2 separate regions of the Homo sapiens genome follow, and region 1 is linked to region 2. The links come from fine-mapping of genetic effects on gene expression. A gene starts in region 2. The other region holds a variant in brackets. All regions are shown on one strand. Distances are from middle to middle.

Region 1 (10,114 bases), 110 kb after region 2:
CTGAGTCACAGGGCCCAGAGAAAAACAAGAACATCGTGACGTCAGAGCAGGGGTGGGGAGAAATCTCCCTCGAGATCTCCGTGGGCACCGGAAATAGAAACTGCTCCCTTTGAAGCATCTATTAGAAGATCCAAGTCTCTAACAGATCACCATGAGATTTCAATTCAGTTCCTATTAAGCACCAACTGAACGCATGTGAGAATGTCAGGGAATCAGTTGGTGAAGAGGCAACCGTTTTAATTTAATTTTATTTATTTGAACAGAGTAAGCCTCTGTTCAATCCTGACTCATCTTCTTTCTTCTCTTACTACCCATTTGCCCTTGAGCAGTTCACTTAAACTTTCTGACCCCATTTCCTCTTCAGTAATAATAATTCTTGTCTCATTGAGATAGTGTGAGGGCTTAAAGGGAATTACATTTTTCAAAAGCATCTTGCACAGATCTGGCACAGTCAGTGGTAGGTCTTCTTAGCATAAGGATATAAAAAGATCTTTCTGTAAGGTTGGTGTGGGGATTAAATTGGATGACATATCTTTACTTTCAAGCAAGCTCTGGACTGAGCTCTTACTAAGGTTTCAGCTAAGGAGAGAGATTTCTTTCCTCCTCTCTAGACACTGGGGTAACTGGTTCTGGTCCCCCAGTGTTCTGGTTAGTAGAACTAAATACGTACACGCACAATGAATGTTTACACAACATCCGCTCATTCCATTCCACAAATATTTCTTTTAACATTGTACACATTACTGGCTCAGCCTTTGTAGAGGTCTAGAAAAACAAAATTAGGATGAATATCCCCATTTTGTTGCTGTTTTTTGTTTTTGTTTTTGTTTTTTAAGACGGAGTTTCACTCTGTCACCGAGGCTGAAGTGCAGTGGTGCCATCTCGGCTCACTGCAAGCTCCACGTCTCGGGTTCAAGCAATTCTCCTGCCTCAGCCTCCCAAATAGCTGGGACCACAGGGGCACACCATCTCGGGTGGCTAATTTTTTGTATTTTAGTAGAGACGATGTTTCACCATGTTGCCAAAGCTAATCACGAACTCCTGAGCTTAGGCAATCTGCCCGCCTCAGCCTCCCAAAGTGCTGGGATTGCAGGCATGAGCCACCGCTCCCGGCCTGCTGCTGATTTTTTAATAATCATTCTGTGGGAGGCACTATGCTAAGTATTTTGCATGCATCGAATTCTTGGAGCAATCTTTTCAAATTCGTGCTATAGTAACCCCCATTTTATAGATGGAGCAACTGAGGCTCAGTAGAGTTGACTGTGCTGCCCAAATGCACAGAACTAGTGGGTGGCAGAGTTGAGGCTCAATCCCAGCCCTGATTATCTCAAAGGTTCTGACTGTCACACTATGCGTGAGCTCCCAGAGAGAGAAAAACACTCAGTTGAAAATTTAGAGTTACTCATGCACAAAGGTATATAAACAACACAAAGTGGTTAGATGGGCAAATGCTGACGGAGAGGCTGGTAATCAGAGTTATGGGCAGTTCTGGGCTGGGAGATCTCCCTGAGAGCTGTACTATGAAAAGGGGCTTTCTAGAAGGTGAAAGTTTAGGTGGGGAGTAAAGCTAGACCTTGAAAAATGATGTGGAACAGGTAACAAAGCAAAGGCACGTTGAGCAGAGGCCCAGATGGTTTGGCCAAATATGGGCTGAGCTTAGTGAAGGTCAGGTAACCAAGGCAAGGTGTGCTTTGGAGAACAAAAGGAGGAAGGTTGAGCTGGCACAGTCTGGCTGGCTGGTATTAGCTTCTTGAATGATAAGCTCTTCAGCCTGGCTGGGGTGACTTCTAACTTCGGAACATCACTGCTTAGGGGATTCCTGTGTATCACACATTGGGCCTGAGCAGCAGAGCTAGGAGTTGTTCCTGTTATTGGAAAGGGAGGAAGTTTCTGCAGAGTAAGTGGGCATGATCTGTCTTGCTGGAGGGCCTCAACCTTTACTCTCCTGGGTAAGAGGAGACAATGATATTTCCATGGTCTTCAGAGCATTCTGCTGAGAAGCCCACAAGCTAAGGGCCATTACAGCAAACTCAGAGATGATACAACCTTTCTGCAGACCATGGTAATATATATGAAGAGGATTAAAACGATGTAACCCTTTGTTCCCTCAATTTTACTGCTAGGAATTAATCCAAGGGAAGTGGTCATGGAGAGATGAGAAAATGTGTGTATGGACAAAGATGGTCACTGTAGAATGTAGTATTAACTTACAAACACAAGAATCAGAAATGTCCCACCTAGTCAGTAATGGGGGCTTAGTTAAAAATTATGATCCAGGCCGGGTGCAGTGGCTCATGGCTGTAATCCCAGCACTTTTGGAGGCTGAGGCAGGCAGATCACCTGAGGTCAGGAATTCGAGCCAATATGGTGAAACCCCGTCTCTACAAAAATTAGCCTGGCATGATGGTGTGTGCCTATAATCCCAGCTATTCAGGAGGCTGAGGCACAAGAATCACTTGAACCTGGGAGGCAGAGGTTGCAGTGAGCAGAGATCGTGCCACTGCACTCCAGCCTGGGTGATAGAGTGAGATTCAGTCTCAAAAAAAAAAAAAAAAAGAAAAGAAAAGAAATTTTGATCCACCCATACAAGGGAATGCTACACTTCCATTCAAAGTCAAGGTGGTCACACCATAGCAGGGAAAAATCAGTTATAAAAACATTAAATATAGTATGATCCTAGCTCACAAGTACATTAATCCAATTCATTCACTTATTAACTATGTAATGAAGATGTGCTGTATGCCAAGCACCATTCTGGGTACTGGGAATATGGACAGGAACAAGCTCAGGGTGGGAAGTTGTTTAGGGAAAGACAGGTAATACATATATGGACTTAAGAATACACAAGATAATTTCTGAGCATGGCACACAATGCCATGAAGAAAGGCATGCAAGATGGACTAGTTTAGTGTGCGTGAAGATGGAGGGACTATCCAAGGAGGTGACATTTCGGCCATGACTTGCACGCTGAAAAAAAAAAAATCCAGTCATGATTTCCAGAGTCATGAAATCCAGAGCATTTCAGGCAAAGAGGCGAAGGCCTTGAGGGGAAATGCCATTGGTGTATTAGGAGGGAAAAAGAAAGAGAAATAATGTGTGAGTAGAGAGAGAAGAGGTAGGAGAGGCAAGCAGGGCCAGATCACACAGACTGAAAGTCAAGGTGAAGTGTTGATAAGGAGTGTGGATTTCCTTCCAAGTGCTGTAGAAAGCTACCGGGTTCTATGTAGGCAATCATCATACAGTTGACCTTCAAACAACACAGGTTTGAACTGCACAGGTCCACTTACAGGTGACTTTTCTTCCACCTCTGCCACCCCTGAGAGAGCAGGACCAACCACTCCTTTTCCTCCTCCTCAGCCTACTCGAGTTGATGATGACAAGGGTGAAGACCTTTATGCTGAGTCACTTCTGCGTAGTGAACGTAAATATACTTTCTCTTCCTTATGATTTTCTCAATAACATTTTCTTTACTCTAGCTTCCTTTATTGTAAGAATACAGTATACAATACATATAACATACAAAATATGTTAATTGACTGTTTATGTTCTCAGCAAGGCTTGCAGTCAACAGTAGGCTATCTGTAGTGTTTTGGGGAGTCAAAAGTTGTATGCAGATTTTCAACTCTGAGGGGGGTCAACACCCCAACTTCCATATCGTTCAGGGTTCAACTCTCTTTATGTATCCGGAAGGAAATACACCAACAGGTTAGTAGAGATTATTAACAAGTAGTGGGGTAATAAACCGTGTTTAAAAATCTGTGTGCTATTCTGTAACTCCTGAACTTTTGTAATTAGAAACAAACAGTAATTTCCATTTTTAAAGAACTCACCAGAGAGCAACATCGACAGATGACAACCATCACCTGGAGCTCCAGTTTGAAGAGGCTTTTCCCTGAGCAATCTCTTTTGATTTTCACGATAACCCTGTGAGTGAAGCCAGACCATTGTCATTAAGACCTCCATTTTGGAGGTGAGGCAATTGAGGCCGGGAGTTGCAAAGAGGCTGAGGCAGGAAATGACAAAACTGGGACAGGAATCAAGGTTCCACA[A/G]CACTGGTCTAAGCTTCCTGATTTTGTGGCCCAGCCAGGCTAATGGCTGAGTCTGCATCAAATTCACCCAGAGACCCCAGGGCCCTAACAGGAAGTCTACAAGGTTACTCTCCTGCTTCGGGGAGGGCAGGGATGGACCTAGAGCCCCCAGCTGCCGATGACTGGAACAAAAAGAGGGTCTTTCCCACATAGTAGATGCTCAACAAACATTTGTTGAATTAATGCAATAGCTTGCTTTTGGGGGAAATGCCACCTTGGGGAGGATGGTTTTGCTGACTTTACAATTTAGTAGCTGTGCATCCTCCTCTGTCACTCCCCTCCACAAAGTTGGAGTGTAGGCTCTGGAGCCGGAATGTCTGGGCTTGAATCTGCCTCTACCACTGACCACCAGCTGTGACCTACCCTTTCCACCTCAGTTTTCTGATCTGTAAAGTGGGAGTAATAATGATGGTCTCCTTGGGTTACTGTTTGGATTAAATGAATGAATGAAGGCTTTGAAGAGATGTTGGCATACAGTGTGTGCTCCATAAGCGTCAGAGGTTACTAGCATCAGCATGAAAGGGCTGTTGAAAGGGTGAGGTGAGGCTCCTGGCAGCACAGGCAGAGCTGAGCAGGGTCTCAATGGGTGATGGCTACCGCGGCTGTCCTTCTACCCCCATGACTCCCCTTGCTGGTGCCTCAGTGGTTATTCACAGGAAACATACAGAAATGCACTGCACATCATTTTTTAGAGAAGGGACACCCCTATCCACCAGAAGGGTCCTTTGCCAAGTCAAATAATAGACCTGTACTCTCTCATCTCAGGAGGTTTCTGTCTGTTCAAGGTCACGTGAAGAATTTCCTGGCACTTTCCAGTGTCTCTGACTCTAATTCATTTAAAGAGCCACCTTTTAAATTTCAGGCTTGACATTTGCTTAATAACATGTGTGGAGCCTGCTCTGGTGAGCGGCCCCAGGGTCACCAGCCCATCCCTCTGTCCTCCACTCCTGCTTTCAAACTTCAATGGTTTAAGGTCTACCGATAATTTTGCTATCACTGCATATCATGTGGTCTAGTCTTTCCCTCATTATTTTTCCTCAACTTGTCTCCCATTTAAAACTTAAAATACATTTCTTCAAAAGGAAAACTTACTACCATAGATGGAAAGCCAATCCCACCTGCTACAAATAGAAGCTATCCAGAAAAAGATATACCACGAAAATAAAATGATATTATGAAACTCTAGAATATTTAATTCTAGAGGAATAGGGTTGCCTGTGGAAGACTCTGGGCTTGAGGCCTGTTTGATTCCCATTTGAAAGGGAGATTTGGAGAGGTGTTAAAGTTTGAGGGAGGCGTTAAAGACCTATTAGTACCAAAGTGAGATTTTCTTCTTGGTGTAATGACAAGGATTGAAAGAGAATTTTCACAGGAGAAAAACTCTCTTACCACAGGATGCAATCTATTTGTTTCCCTGTCTTTTCACTTTCCCCTACTCCCCAGGGGCAAGGGGCTCCCTATTGTATGATTCAGTTCTTTATTGAGAAGAGTTAAAGAGAGAGCAGCCCAGCCCCAGCTTCTTGCTTATTATATCATGCAAATAAGATTCTTTCCCTGCTTTGAAATGAGGGAGCCGAATTAGAGAGATGTTCTTCTCAGAGGATCTCCAGGCCCTGAAAGTCTGCGAGGCCCCATCCAAAAGTTCATTTGGCTGCTGTCTTGGTCATTCCAGGCTGCCATAGCAGAATACCATAGACTGGGTGGCTTATAAACTACAGAAATTTATTCCTCGCAGTTTTGGAGGCTGGAAGTTGAAGATCAGTCACTGGCAGTTTGGAATCTGACGAGGGTCTGCTTTGTGGTTCACAGACAGCTCCTTCTTGCTGTGCCCTCACATGGCAGAAGAGGCCAGGCAGCTCTCTGGGGTCTCTTTCTAAGGGCACTAATCTCATCAATGGGGCTCCACCCTCATGACCTAATCACCTCCCAAAGGCCTCCCTACTAATACCATTGCCTGGGGGTTCACTTTCAATATAAGACTGGGTTGGGGGCAGGCAGACAAAAACACTGTCGATAGCACCTGCACATAAACGTGTTCTCATCCGCTCAGCAACAGAGTTGAAACCTATCAAGAGGATGGCCCCGTGGCATGGGTTGTGTAGCTGAATCTTCCTAAGGAGTAAAGACGTAGGATCCATCACATACCCACAAATAAATTCACGTTTCCTGGGGGTGGATTTTCTGCTTGTTGAACTGAGCAGATGGCTGTGCTTGAGACGAAAAAGGAAGTTGCTAAACCCTCTCTCTGCCCAGTGCAGAATTTGGAAAGAAACAACCAAATAACCCGCTCACTTCAGGTTCTGTCCCCTGTTTCAGTAGCCCCTGCGGATTCCTCCTGCAGTGGTTTCCTTATCAGAGTCCCTGGGAGGCGCTGCCAATGCATCATTCCTAAATTACTATGTTTTCATATCTCCTCCCTTCTCCTAAATCAGAGGGGACCTGCCTCATCTGGGTGCTGCATGCTGGTTTCTTAGCCTGATGCTCAAGACCTCATGCAGTGTGATTTCAACCTACAATCCTATGGCAGCCCTGGCTGCTGGGATTTCCTTCCTTGAATCTTCTGCTTCTGACAAGCTGGTTACCTGGCACACAGCAGGCATGAAGAAATGTTTTTGCATGAAAGAATATGCCTTCTGCTGTGCTGCAGTTTGCCTCCGTTCATCTCAACATATATTCCTTGAGTGACCGGGACAACTGGTGCTTGAAGACTTCCTATATGCCAGACACTGGTAGGGTGGGCACTGCTCCAATTTGCCCTGGACTTTCCTGATTTTAGCCCTGGAAGCCATGTCTCAGAAATCCCCCACCCCACCCCAGGCAAATTGGGACAGTTGGTCTTCCTAATAAATTGGGCTCCATGCATTCTATTTTCATGGGACTTCCAACATAGAGTAGATGACATTAAACAAATTATCCCACAAAGAAATGCATAATTATAAACCATGGCAGGTGCAGAGGAGAAGTCAACCCTGAGCTGGGCACTGTGGATATGAAGAGAAAAAGACACAGTCAGGCCTTGGCAAAGCATCCTGCTTGTAACTAGGAGAGAGAGGGACACACAGCTTATTTAATGTAAAGTGGTGAGCACAGTGAATCAGAAACCTACACTCTCTTATCCCTGTTCACATTATACTGTTTCTATTTTAATTGGGGTTTCAAACATTGGAAACCCACTCTGGTGAATTAAATAGAGGTGTATTGAAAGGGCTTTGGAAGGAAAAGCTGAAAAATAGGCCTTGGAAGAGAGAGAAACAATTGCTTCTTAGGGAGTTGAGATAGTCAAAAAATTATGCCAGAACAAAAGAACATGCTTTGTTCCACTTCCATTAGAAAAACTGACTCTAGCCATTCAATGCCCTTGGGTTTCTCTGGCCAATATCCTGATTCCAGGAAGAAAGTATATGGTGGCCAAGCTTGGGTCTCATGCCAGCCCCTTGGCCAGTCTAGCAGGGCACCATAATTAGAAATTCCACCAAAACCGCGTGCAGCTGGGCATGGGGACAGGCAGTTGCTATGGGCAATGGAGGGGCGGGAGCTGGGAAGGTGAAGGCCACAGCTGCCTGCTCTCTCCTCTTCAAAAAGGGGCCCAGACATTGCCTTCTCCAGCATCTTTTTCACCATGGCCACTGCCCTTGGAGTGCCTCTCTGCTTGCTTTTGGTCCAGAATATTCTGTTACCATGGATAGCATCAGGCTGACAGCTGTTGTGTCTTATCCAGCCACCCGACTATTATCACCTTGGAGCATGTGCTGTGTCCTTGGGCACAGCTAGTACAATGCCTGGCACAGCAAAGGGACTCCATGAATGTTGCTGAGTACTTTCTGGAGAGTTTCACAGAGCAAGTGGCCATGATGATCCTGCCATCCTTCCCTGGCCCATTGCCCTCCAGCCAAACCAGCCTTCTTCCTGGATCTCAAACACTTTGAGCAGCTTTGCAGCCCGCCTGGCTATTCCTTCATCCCATGTTGTCCGCTTTGCCAGTCTCGTGACTCAGGGGTTCTCAACTGGAGGTGGTTTTGCCCTCCAGGGGAACACCTGGCAATGTCTGGGGGCATTTTTTGGTTGTCACCCTGGAAAATGGGATGCTACTGGCATCTCGTGGGTAAAGGCCAAGGATGCGGCTAAACATCTTATAATGCATAGGCCAACCCCCCAACAAAGAGTTATGGGATCCACAATGTCCACAGTGCCAAGGTCGGGAAAGCCTACAGCAAGCCTCAATCCCCTCAGCCCAGAGACCCTCCCGTTCAGGAAGGCTTCCCTGAGCATCGCCCGTTTCTTTCTCTCTTTTTTTTTTCTTCTTTGAGACAGAGTCTCACTCTGTCACCCAGGCTGGAGTGCAGTGGCGCAATCTCGGATCACTGCAAGCTCCGCCTCCTGGGTTCACGCCATTCTCCTGCCTCAGCCTCCCGAGTAGCTGGGACTACAGGCGCCCGCCACCACGTCCGGCTAATTTTTTTTGTACTTTTAGTACAGACGGGGTTTCACCGTGTTAGCCAGGATGGTCTCAATCTCCTGACCTCGTGATCCACCCACCTTGGCCTCCCAAAGTGCTGGGATTACAGGCTTGAGCCACCGCACCCGGCCTCATGCCCCCCACTGTATTTCCTTCATGACACCTTGTCACAGCCTAAAATGATCCTGCCTGCTTGTTCAGTTGCTGACTTGGTGCCTGTCTTGTGGACTAGATCGGTCCTATGAGAGCGACCCCCATGGGCCTTGCTCGTGGGGCGCTCCCCTGCATGGAGAGTGGCACATGGCATATGGCAGGCTGCTCAGTAAAACGTGTTGCAGGAATGTTGAATAAAGAAATATGACCTCAACTTTTCTTTTACTTTACTTTTTTATTTTTTGAGACAAGGTCTCACTATCCACCAGGCTGGAGTACAGTGGTGCAATCATAGCTCACTGCAGCCTCAACCTCCTGGGCTCAAGCGATCTTCCTGTCTCAGCCTCCTGAGTAGTTGGGACTACAGGTGTGCACTACCATGCCTGGCTAATTTAAAAATATATATATATATTTGTAGAGACAGGGTCTCTGAGTCTTTCTATGTTCCCCAGGCTAGTCTTGAACTCCTGGGCTCAAGCAATCCTCCTATCTCAGCCTCCCAAAGTGCTGGAGTTACAGGCATGAGCCATTGTGCCCAGCCTCAACTTTTCAAAGATCAGCAGTCAGAGAGCTCCGCTGTGAAGTCCAGCTTCTTTCAGGCTGGCTATCTTTGTGTGTCTGTGTTCATTTCCGCAGCCAGTTCACATTCAGTCTCTGTTGTTGGCTGGCTGTGTGGGCCTTTGGCAAATTTCTGAAGCCTCCCAGGCCTCAGTCTCTGCATCTCTAAAGTGGGGCTATTATGATCAGCCCCTTCATCACAGAGATGTAGTGGGAAGTAAATAAATGAATCTACAGCACTTAAGAAAATGCCTGACTCAGAAAGGCCTCTGTAAACGTCATCTATCAGCAGCAGCATCATGTTTTGGCTGGGGCAGGCAGTGGGGGCGACAGAACGAGCTCTGGGGCCCTACCAGAAGATTAGGGGATGAACGCAGCTTGCAAGGCCAAAGCTGTCCCCATTTGGTTTTGCCAGCTCTTGCTCATCCATGAAATAAACCGGATGAAGCCTTCATCCAGCCCTTGTTTTGAGAAGGAGGCAAGCAGAGAGCGTGGATTTAATGTGGCAGATGGTGCTGTCCTTGAATTATGAAACCAAAGGAGGAAATTAAAGTGCTCCATTGCAACAGATATGGGCCAGCCGGGGCAGAAGGCAGGAGGTGGGGCAGAAAGGAGGGCAGGAAGGAGGTGCTGTATCAACTGGGCAATGGCTATTTTCAAGGGTAGCTGGAGTCCTAAGATAATAGAATTCCGTAGCCCCATATAATTTTAGAATCTTCATCTTACATAGGCAAATGAGGCTCAGAGAGGGAAAGTGACTGTGAAGGTCACACAGCCAGTTAGTGGCAGAGCAACTCACACGTCCTGATTCCTTGAACAGTATTATTTTCTGCTGCCCCAAGCCAAGGCCAGTGGCAGA
Region 2 (8,000 bases):
AAGCACAGTAATTGATCTTTGGTTTTAACAACTGAAACCCTTTAAAGCAAATGCCAACAGCTTTTTGATAGGCAAAAAAAAAAAAAAATCGTTTTTAGAAGTCGAAAACTAAATATACCCACATATTTTAAGATGCACTGCACCTGAATCCTTAGGAAAGGAATGACATAGGGTTCTCTTAGCAAACTTCCCCTCCCTCTCAGTCAATTACTAATTAAAACAGATAATTCTGCTAGGGCTAACATCGTATTTGGGAACAGTGCAATGATTCTATAATCTGTTTCAGCCTTTGCAGAAATATTTCTAAAGTAACCCTCTAGCTGTAGCACATGTGTACGTGCACACATGTATGTATACATATTTTCAATCCTTGGGTTTGTTTTTTTTTTTAACTTAGAATTTGTACTCTGACCAGCTGTGTACCCTTGGCTAAGTTATTATATATTTCTCATATTCAATTTCTGCATCTGTAAAATGGGGATAATAACAGAACTCATCTTGTGAGGTTGTTGGGAAAACTAGATTCAATGCTAGATTCTTACCCCTTATAAATTTCCTAAACACATATAATCATACCCTCAAAGTATATACATTTAGTGGAGCATCTGACGTTCAACCACCTATGAAATTCCCTTTATCTAGTTCATATCAACCTAACTTGCTGCTCATTAATTCAAAAACATCAATGACTCTTGCCAGAATAAAGATATTCTGGTAGCAAGAAAGACAAATGATCTTTGCCTGGATCTATTTTTAGGAATGGTTTAATTATCTACATCTTCAATGTTAACATTGGAAAATAAACAAACGGGTGAAAGGCATAAAGAGTCACTCTGAGATGAACAGTTTCACAGTGTTCAAAAATAAATGGGGATGAAGAAAACATTTAGATCATTTCTCTCACTAGATAGTCCTTACTGATGAAAGGTAGGCCAAAATTTGCAGAGGTTTAAGAGGAATTGCCAAGTCCATCAATTCAGGCTGTTCAGACCTACAAGGTTCAGAGAGTTTCCAGGTTTAAAATGCAACCAACCAGTGAGAAAACTGTAATTCAATAGCTGGTTTTCAGTGAATCACTACCTTATAGTGTCAAAAGAAATTTGTTTAGTTATATAGTTACTTCAGAAAACATTCAATAGTTTCTGCAATGAAATATATTTATATCTATATATTATTTATTCTCATCTAAATAGGGAAAAAACTGACCCTGATTCTCATGTCAGGCAAGAAAGGTATTATAGTTAATAATTACTACATCACCAGCTACCAGGTATTCATAATTATCTATGACAAGATTAAGGCTACAATTTAGAAAACTGCCAAAGAAACAGCTGAATATTTTGTTCCAATTACACTCCTGCTAAAATAAAGTCTGGTTATTGATTCATTTTCTCTCTAAGAAAAGCTCTGATGTGAATACGGGCACTTCAAACTCTAGTTACATAGATATTACACCATGCTATTTCCTTATTCATCCTAATCTATTAATGGAACATAATCTTACCGGAAAAGGAAAAATGTTGTCAGCCCTGTTCAAGCTATCTTCCATCCAGGATTTAGGTGCAAAGGCAGAGCTGGGGCGAGCATACTTCTGGAGCTGAATATGATTGCTTGCAAAATTTTTCTTCAAAGGCGAGATGGAGTTCAGGGGCGTTATTCCACCATTCAGCCCTCTGCGGTGATCTCGGCCTTGGGAACCTCCCCAGCCACCATATCCACCACCGCCCGGGCTCCAGGAAGAGGAGGGTGTTGGTGACGGACTCTGGTAGCTGCTCCACGGAGAGGGGGGTTTGTTAAGATTATTCGCCAAATGAGGCAGCTGGTTAAAAGCAGCATTTCTATGTGTGAAGGGTGGGGGATGGGGACTGGCAGGAGACCTCCTTTGCTGCTGATGCTGGCTGTGATGATGCTGGAAATGAGGGTGATGTGGGTGGTGCTGTGAGAGAGGCCCGATCTGAGGAGAGAAGCTGCCTCCAAAGCCAGGGCTGACATGATGGGGGAAATTTTGAAACAACAGAGCACCGTTATTAGCCGAAGCAGCAGGGACCCCTCCCTGGTGAAAGAAACTTGCATCTTCATTGATTATTGTAGAGGAGGAAGGCGCTATCGCTGCTGACCAGTTACTGAAACCAGTAAGAGACGATGCGCTAGATGTCAAGGGTTGGGTTGAAGTACCTAGCCCAGTGGCTTCTTGATAATCAAACCCTGTCAACACTGGAGATTCGATCCTTATTTTCTCCTTCCCATTGCCATTTTCCGAAGAATTGTCCCCTTGATTTTCTTCTGATTTTGCCTTCTCTGTTTCAGGCAGTATTCCAGCTTCCTGACCTGGACTTGGGGAAAGCTGCTGCTTTTCTAAGGGGTCTTGCTGTTCCTGTTGCTGACTTTTTGCTTTTTCTGACCCCAAGATCTCATCCTGAATGTTATGGGTAGCTGGAGCAGGAAAAAGCCAAGCTGACCCAGCACTGCTGCCATTGGCAGCTGTGTTATTATTTATAAAAGCAGCAGGGCTGGGGGTGGCATTTTGGTGATGGTGTGGAGGCTGCAGATGTGGATGGAATCTGACTGGAAAAGCAGATTTATTCCCAGTATTGCTTTGCACTAGCACTCCAAACCCGTAATCCCCCATTTATTATCTTTAGGAGCAGAATCTCACAATAAAAAATGACAACCTGATGTCTCACGCCTTTTTTTTCCTCTACCCCAAATTTAAGTTGTTTGCTTGCTTGCTTGAAATGTCTTATTTATAGCTAGCTCAAAGATCGCAGCTTATCACCTTAAATTGTTCTGATTTGGAATTCTGGTCTCTGAAAGAAAAAACAACTCTTAAAAAAATCTCTTAAAACATTGACTTGGATCCAATTGGGCTTATTTTTAGGAGGGAATAAAAATGAAGAGGGTAAAAATCAAGTCTTTGGTTAGTAAAATAGGCGCTTTCTTTTTCCAAAGGAAAATGTACATGAATGACAAAAACAGAGCTTCTCAAGCATCTATGGATGTAGAAGAATAAGCCTTGCGCGGAGTAAAAATATAGATATATATAATTTAACAATCACATATGGTTTTCCTCAGCAGTTTAGATTCACTCACATAAAAATTAGAATAGGACTAAGAGGGGAATACGTTCTTTTCTTGGCAGCTTGGTTAAAAAAAAATCAGGAATAATTTAAGAACATTATATATTATATATTTATATATATAGATTATATTAGGTTATCTGGGGTGGGAAGTGAATTCCTGGTTTCGGGAGAGGAAATCAGCATTGACTAATGGAAAGATGATTGCAGGGAGGTTTCTGCTGTTCCTGGTCCTGTTTTCTGCTCTTTCGCAGGGTGCAGTTTTGGCCTCTGGGGCTGTTCCTGAGGCTCCGGGTGCAGATCTTGCTGCGGTCGCTGTTCCTGGGCTCCCCGCGGCTTCCTCTCCCCCATGAAAGGGGTTGGAAACACCCGTTTCTCCCTCTTGCGGGGGTCGCGATCAGGAGGGATTAGCGAGACTCGACGAGGGTGAGCGGGCGGCCTGGGGGTGCGGGGACCGAGGGGGCGACCTGGAAGGTCCTGCGGTTTCTGCCTCTTCCCCTCTCTGCGGCTCCGGGGTTTTTTTCCCTCATGGGACCCAGGGGCGGTTTGTTCAGTTCCCTCAGTTCGATTCTCCGCAGAGAGGGAAAAAAGAGGAAAAAAAGGAAAAACCCACTACCGTAGTTATTTTAAAGGAGAAGGGCCTCCCCCCTCGGCTTTCTCTCTCTTTTCCCCCAGAATTTTTTTTTAAACTATAATTTAGAAGGCTTTTGTTTCTCCTCACGGTTGCTGGGCCGTCGCCGCCGTCGCCGCTTTACCCTGGTCCCGCAGTCCCCGCTGTCGTTGTTGAGGACTCCTCCTGGTTCTTCTTTTTCTTTCCTTCTTCCTCCTCTTCCTCCTCTGCTGTCGCCGCTGCTGCCGCCGCCGCCGCCGCCACCGCCTCCCGGTGCCCGGGTCCCGCAGCCGCGGCTGAGTCCTTCTCCTCAGGACCGAGCCGAGTGAAATGACAACCAGCTGGAAAGACCCAGAGACACTTCCGGTTCGAAGAGGGAGGGGTGGGGGTAGCACTCATTCCCCACCTACCTGCCGGAAGACCAATCATCTGTTAGAACTCAGGCGAGGCCACGCCCCCTCGCTTCAGAGCTACTCCCAGGAAGGTCGAAAAGTTACCTCCAGAGACGCCTCTTCCGTCTGCGCCTCGCCTAGTGAGGCCCGGCGCCTGGAACCCGCTTCCCCCACCCAGAGTGAGCGCAGCAGGTCGCCATCTTTTGTGTGGGCAAGGGACTCCTTTGATATTTCTCTTCCCTAACTGGGCTTTGCAGGAGGAGCAATAGGGACGTGTCAAGGAGAACGGATTCCTCGCTCACGAAGGCATACGGTCAAGGTGTTGGAGATCGAAGTGGCGGCCCGTGAAACCGCGGATGAATGAGAAGGGTGCCCACAGTAAAGGTGGTGCTCCAAGCATCACGTGCTCTGGCCCGAGCTCCGCCCCAGAGGGATCTGGAAGGGGAGGCGGGTCTTGCCAGCAGCTGTGCGGTGCCTAGAACTGCGTTTGCCCTTGCCCAGAATGTAGACCTCACGAGGGACTCTCCCTTAACCTTCCATTCGCTCACCCGCACCTCCCACTCTCCCATTCTGCTAGGCTCGCATCTGGTGCAGTCTCCCAGGTGCAGAGATGCAGCTGAGGCGTCTGTGGCTATGCCCCCGTATCATCCCGATCTAGTACACCTTACACGCAATACCAGAGGGAAAATTCCAAAACTAAAATTTTATCTTGACCCTCACATGCTCCGATTTCTTCTATGGTTGCCCATTATTTCGAAGATAAAGGCCAAACTTGTTAGTCTGGTATTCAAGCCTTTCTACCTAATGGGTGGTATATCTTAGTGCCTCTTCCCCCTCCAAACACACTCTCAATGCCTTTTTACATGTCCTTTCCACTCTTCTCCTTTGGTAAATTCCTATTTATTTCTAGGAATCAGTTCAAAAGCCACCAACAGCATCTTCTGAATTCTCTCTTATAAGCGTCCACGGCCCTGTGTACCTCTCGTGCTTGTTTCTCACACTATATTGTGATGGTTTATGTCTTCCAGACCTGTGCTGGACCGTGGGCTCTTTCAGGAGCAGACATTGTAGATAGGAGACATCAGTGAATGAATCCTGAAAACGTGAATGAACAAACCAGCAACAATGAAGTCTTCCCTGAGTGACAGCCCCCCAACCCACTGCCACCCCTTCCACCCGTCACCCACCCCCCACCCCTCACTCCTGTTTCCAAGTCTGAATTAATTATTTCCTTCCTTTTGCCATTTGGTTTGGAGCTCACATATCAGACTTTTCATTATGTTTGGTACTCAAGGGCTTTAATGTCCTGTTTATCTTTGTACATTCCCAACGCTATGACCACCATCAGGGCTTAGGATAATGCTTTGCTCTCAGCACAGCTTTAAATATGTTAAATAAGTGAGTATTTTCCTTTAGCAGGAAGAAAAATGAACAAAGAAATCAGGGTAGAGCCAGAAGTAACTGGCACAACTAGAGGGAAAAAAAAGATACCAAGATTAATGAAAAATAGTATGAACAAAGGTGGCTTCCATTTCATTTCCATAGCCTTCCTCTAATGGTCTCAACTTCTGCCTCAGTCTGTCAATCCTCCATCACTTCCGTGTAGAACACCTGAGGGCCTTCAATCGGTGATTTTATTCTCTTTCATTGTGCCATGAGCATGAGTCTTGTCTCTGTAACTCTACTATGGATTCTTTGAGCATAGAGATTGGGTCTTACCTGCTGTTTATTCCCTACAACTGGACATGCCTGGAAACTTAGCTGGTTCCGTCAGGTGTCTTTTCCGCCAGAATGGTTTCCTTGACTGGCCCTCTCTCTAATGTCTTGTAGATTGCTCTCTTTTAATTACTGCTGGTTGTCAGTGGGTTAGTTTCTTAAGGGCAGAGGTTGTGTCTGATTTATCTTTATGTCCCCAGTGGCCAGAAGAGGGTCTGGCACAGAGCAGACTCAAAACTCAGAACACATTTATTGAATGAACAAATGAATGTTCCATGCCCAGAAGATGGTTTAGGGTCCCTCAGAGCTACTAATTATCAGTGGCTAAAATGGCAGCCATGACTTGGAAAAAAGAGCACCTTTGGAACCAAACAGCCCTGAATTTGAATCCCAGCTCTGCTGCTTCCTAGCTGTGCAAAACTGGGCATCACCTCTATAAGCCCTTGGTTCCTTCTAGATAAAATGTGAATGATATTTCCTCTCTTGCTAAGTTTGTAAATTACATGGGATACATGTGAAGTGCTGGACTCCTAAAAAGTTTTATTAGTCCATTTTCACACTGCTATAAAGAAATGCCCAAGACTGGGTAATTTATAAAGGAAAGAGGTTTAATTGACTCACAGTTCCACGTGACTGGGGAAGCCTCAGGAAACTTACAATCATGCCGGAAGGCGAAGGGGAAGCAAGCACTTTCTTCACAAGGCGGCAGGAGAGACCAGAGTGAAAGAAGAACTGTCAAACACTTATAAAACCATCAGAGCTCATGAGAACTCACTATCAGGAGAACAGCATGGGGAAACTGCCCCCTTGATCCAATCACCTCCCTCTGTCTACACATAAGGATTACAATTTGAGATAAGAGTTGGGTGGGGACACAGAGCCAAACCATATCAGAGGTGATCAAAAATGTCACTTCCTTTGTAACACATTAAATGCAGGGAATTCCTTCACAAGTGTCTTTTGCCTAGAAGCAGCTGTGTGCACAAGGGAATCCAGGAACTTGTCTTGGTTGATAAAAGGTGGAGACGCCCAGGGCCACAGTCAGGTGCTGCCAAGTCGGGCTAATCTTTTAAGGCTAAGTCAGGTGTGGGCAGTAGATTGGGATGGTTTGCAGCTAGGATGATCACTAAGACATCAGACTCTTGCTTAGGGACTGGAAGTATGGAAGAAGGAAGGGGGAAATCTATTATTTTCTTTTCTTTTTTCTTTTTTTTTTTTGGCATCAGTTGCCTACTCAGGAACCCAGGATACCCAGAGCCCAGGGCTGCGCTCCTTGAAAACATTCTGGCCTCAGAAACTTCCCATGGTAACCATGACAACAATTCAGCAGCTCCATTTAGGATCTCCAAAAGGATCTACAGATGTAGGTGAGTGCTGGCTTGAGCACTCTGCTGGCAGAAGAGAGCCTTTTTCATGAAGTGTGCTCACCAGAAAGTTTTTGGGTTGCAGGGGAAGCAAGTTCTGCCCAAACATTAAGGTGCTACTAGTTAAAAAAAAAAAAAAATTAAAAAGCTCTATCCCTGTCTAGTACAATGAGGGCTAACACACCTTCAGAGAAGTTGTAGGCTGGGGAATGCCTGTAACCTGGTAGCTACTGCCCAGCCCCCTCTGGGGTTTGAGGTCAACCACACCCAGAACCTAGAGCCTTCCAGGAAGCAGGGCATTAATATCTCCTTCACCAGCCTCTTTTAAAGCTCGGCAAGCAGTAGAAATCTCACCCCATAATCACACAAGGTGAACTCTGCCCCAGTCCAGCTCTAATGTCTCCCACCACTTTCCTTGAAGCATGCATTGTCAGCCTTCTCCCAATAGCCCACACCCGAGCTCCCCAGAGGCTTGTCTAATGACCAAAAATCAGGACCACTACCCAAGGCTGCCCTGGTTGTGCACTGTGCAACTTCATAAGGCACCACAGACTAGTATGTGAATGCATCCAATGGAGTTGTACAAGGCAGCAGCCCTGTTTCAGTTCTTTTTTTCTAAGACACAGGGGCACATTATACAAATATGACACACATACAAAAAAAGCTCATTACATGAGCCATGCTTATTGCCTGCAGAAATATTTAAAGCACTTGATCCTTTTAGAGTTAGCAGCCCAGGAACTTTCTGTAATTGAATTGAAGGACACTGTGTCCTTGGTATTGGTTTTGGTTAGTGAGCTGTAGTGAGAAGACAAGTCTGGACAAGTATATGGTCCAGGCC

Evidence for each region. PIP is the estimated chance that this variant, and not a neighbour inherited with it, causes the effect.
Region 1: its variant is fine-mapped to the expression of CPEB4 in whole blood (TOPMed, PIP above 0.99).

The regions. Positions count from the first base shown.
Region 1 is chr5:173,772,158-173,782,271 of GRCh38, reverse strand. LOC107986482 (a long non-coding RNA gene) reads right to left here and starts at 3,996. Exons shown (of 2, transcript XR_001743004.2): 1 at 3,831-3,996. It overlaps LOC124901138 (a long non-coding RNA gene), which reads left to right and starts at 9,815. Exons shown (of 2, transcript XR_007059060.1): 1 at 9,815-10,114. RefSeq lists a cis regulatory region at 1-9 and enhancers at 1-76, 3,207-3,426, 3,252-3,546, 3,303-4,502, 9,993-10,114. The variant A/G (reference allele first, on the strand shown) is at 4,050.
Region 2 is chr5:173,884,363-173,892,362 of GRCh38, reverse strand. CPEB4 (cytoplasmic polyadenylation element binding protein 4) reads right to left here and starts at 4,014. Exons shown (of 10, transcript NM_030627.4): 1 at 1,505-4,014. The coding sequence starts at 2,629. RefSeq lists a silencer at 1,443-1,737 and enhancers at 1,242-1,741, 1,742-2,243, 4,268-4,507, 7,474-7,723.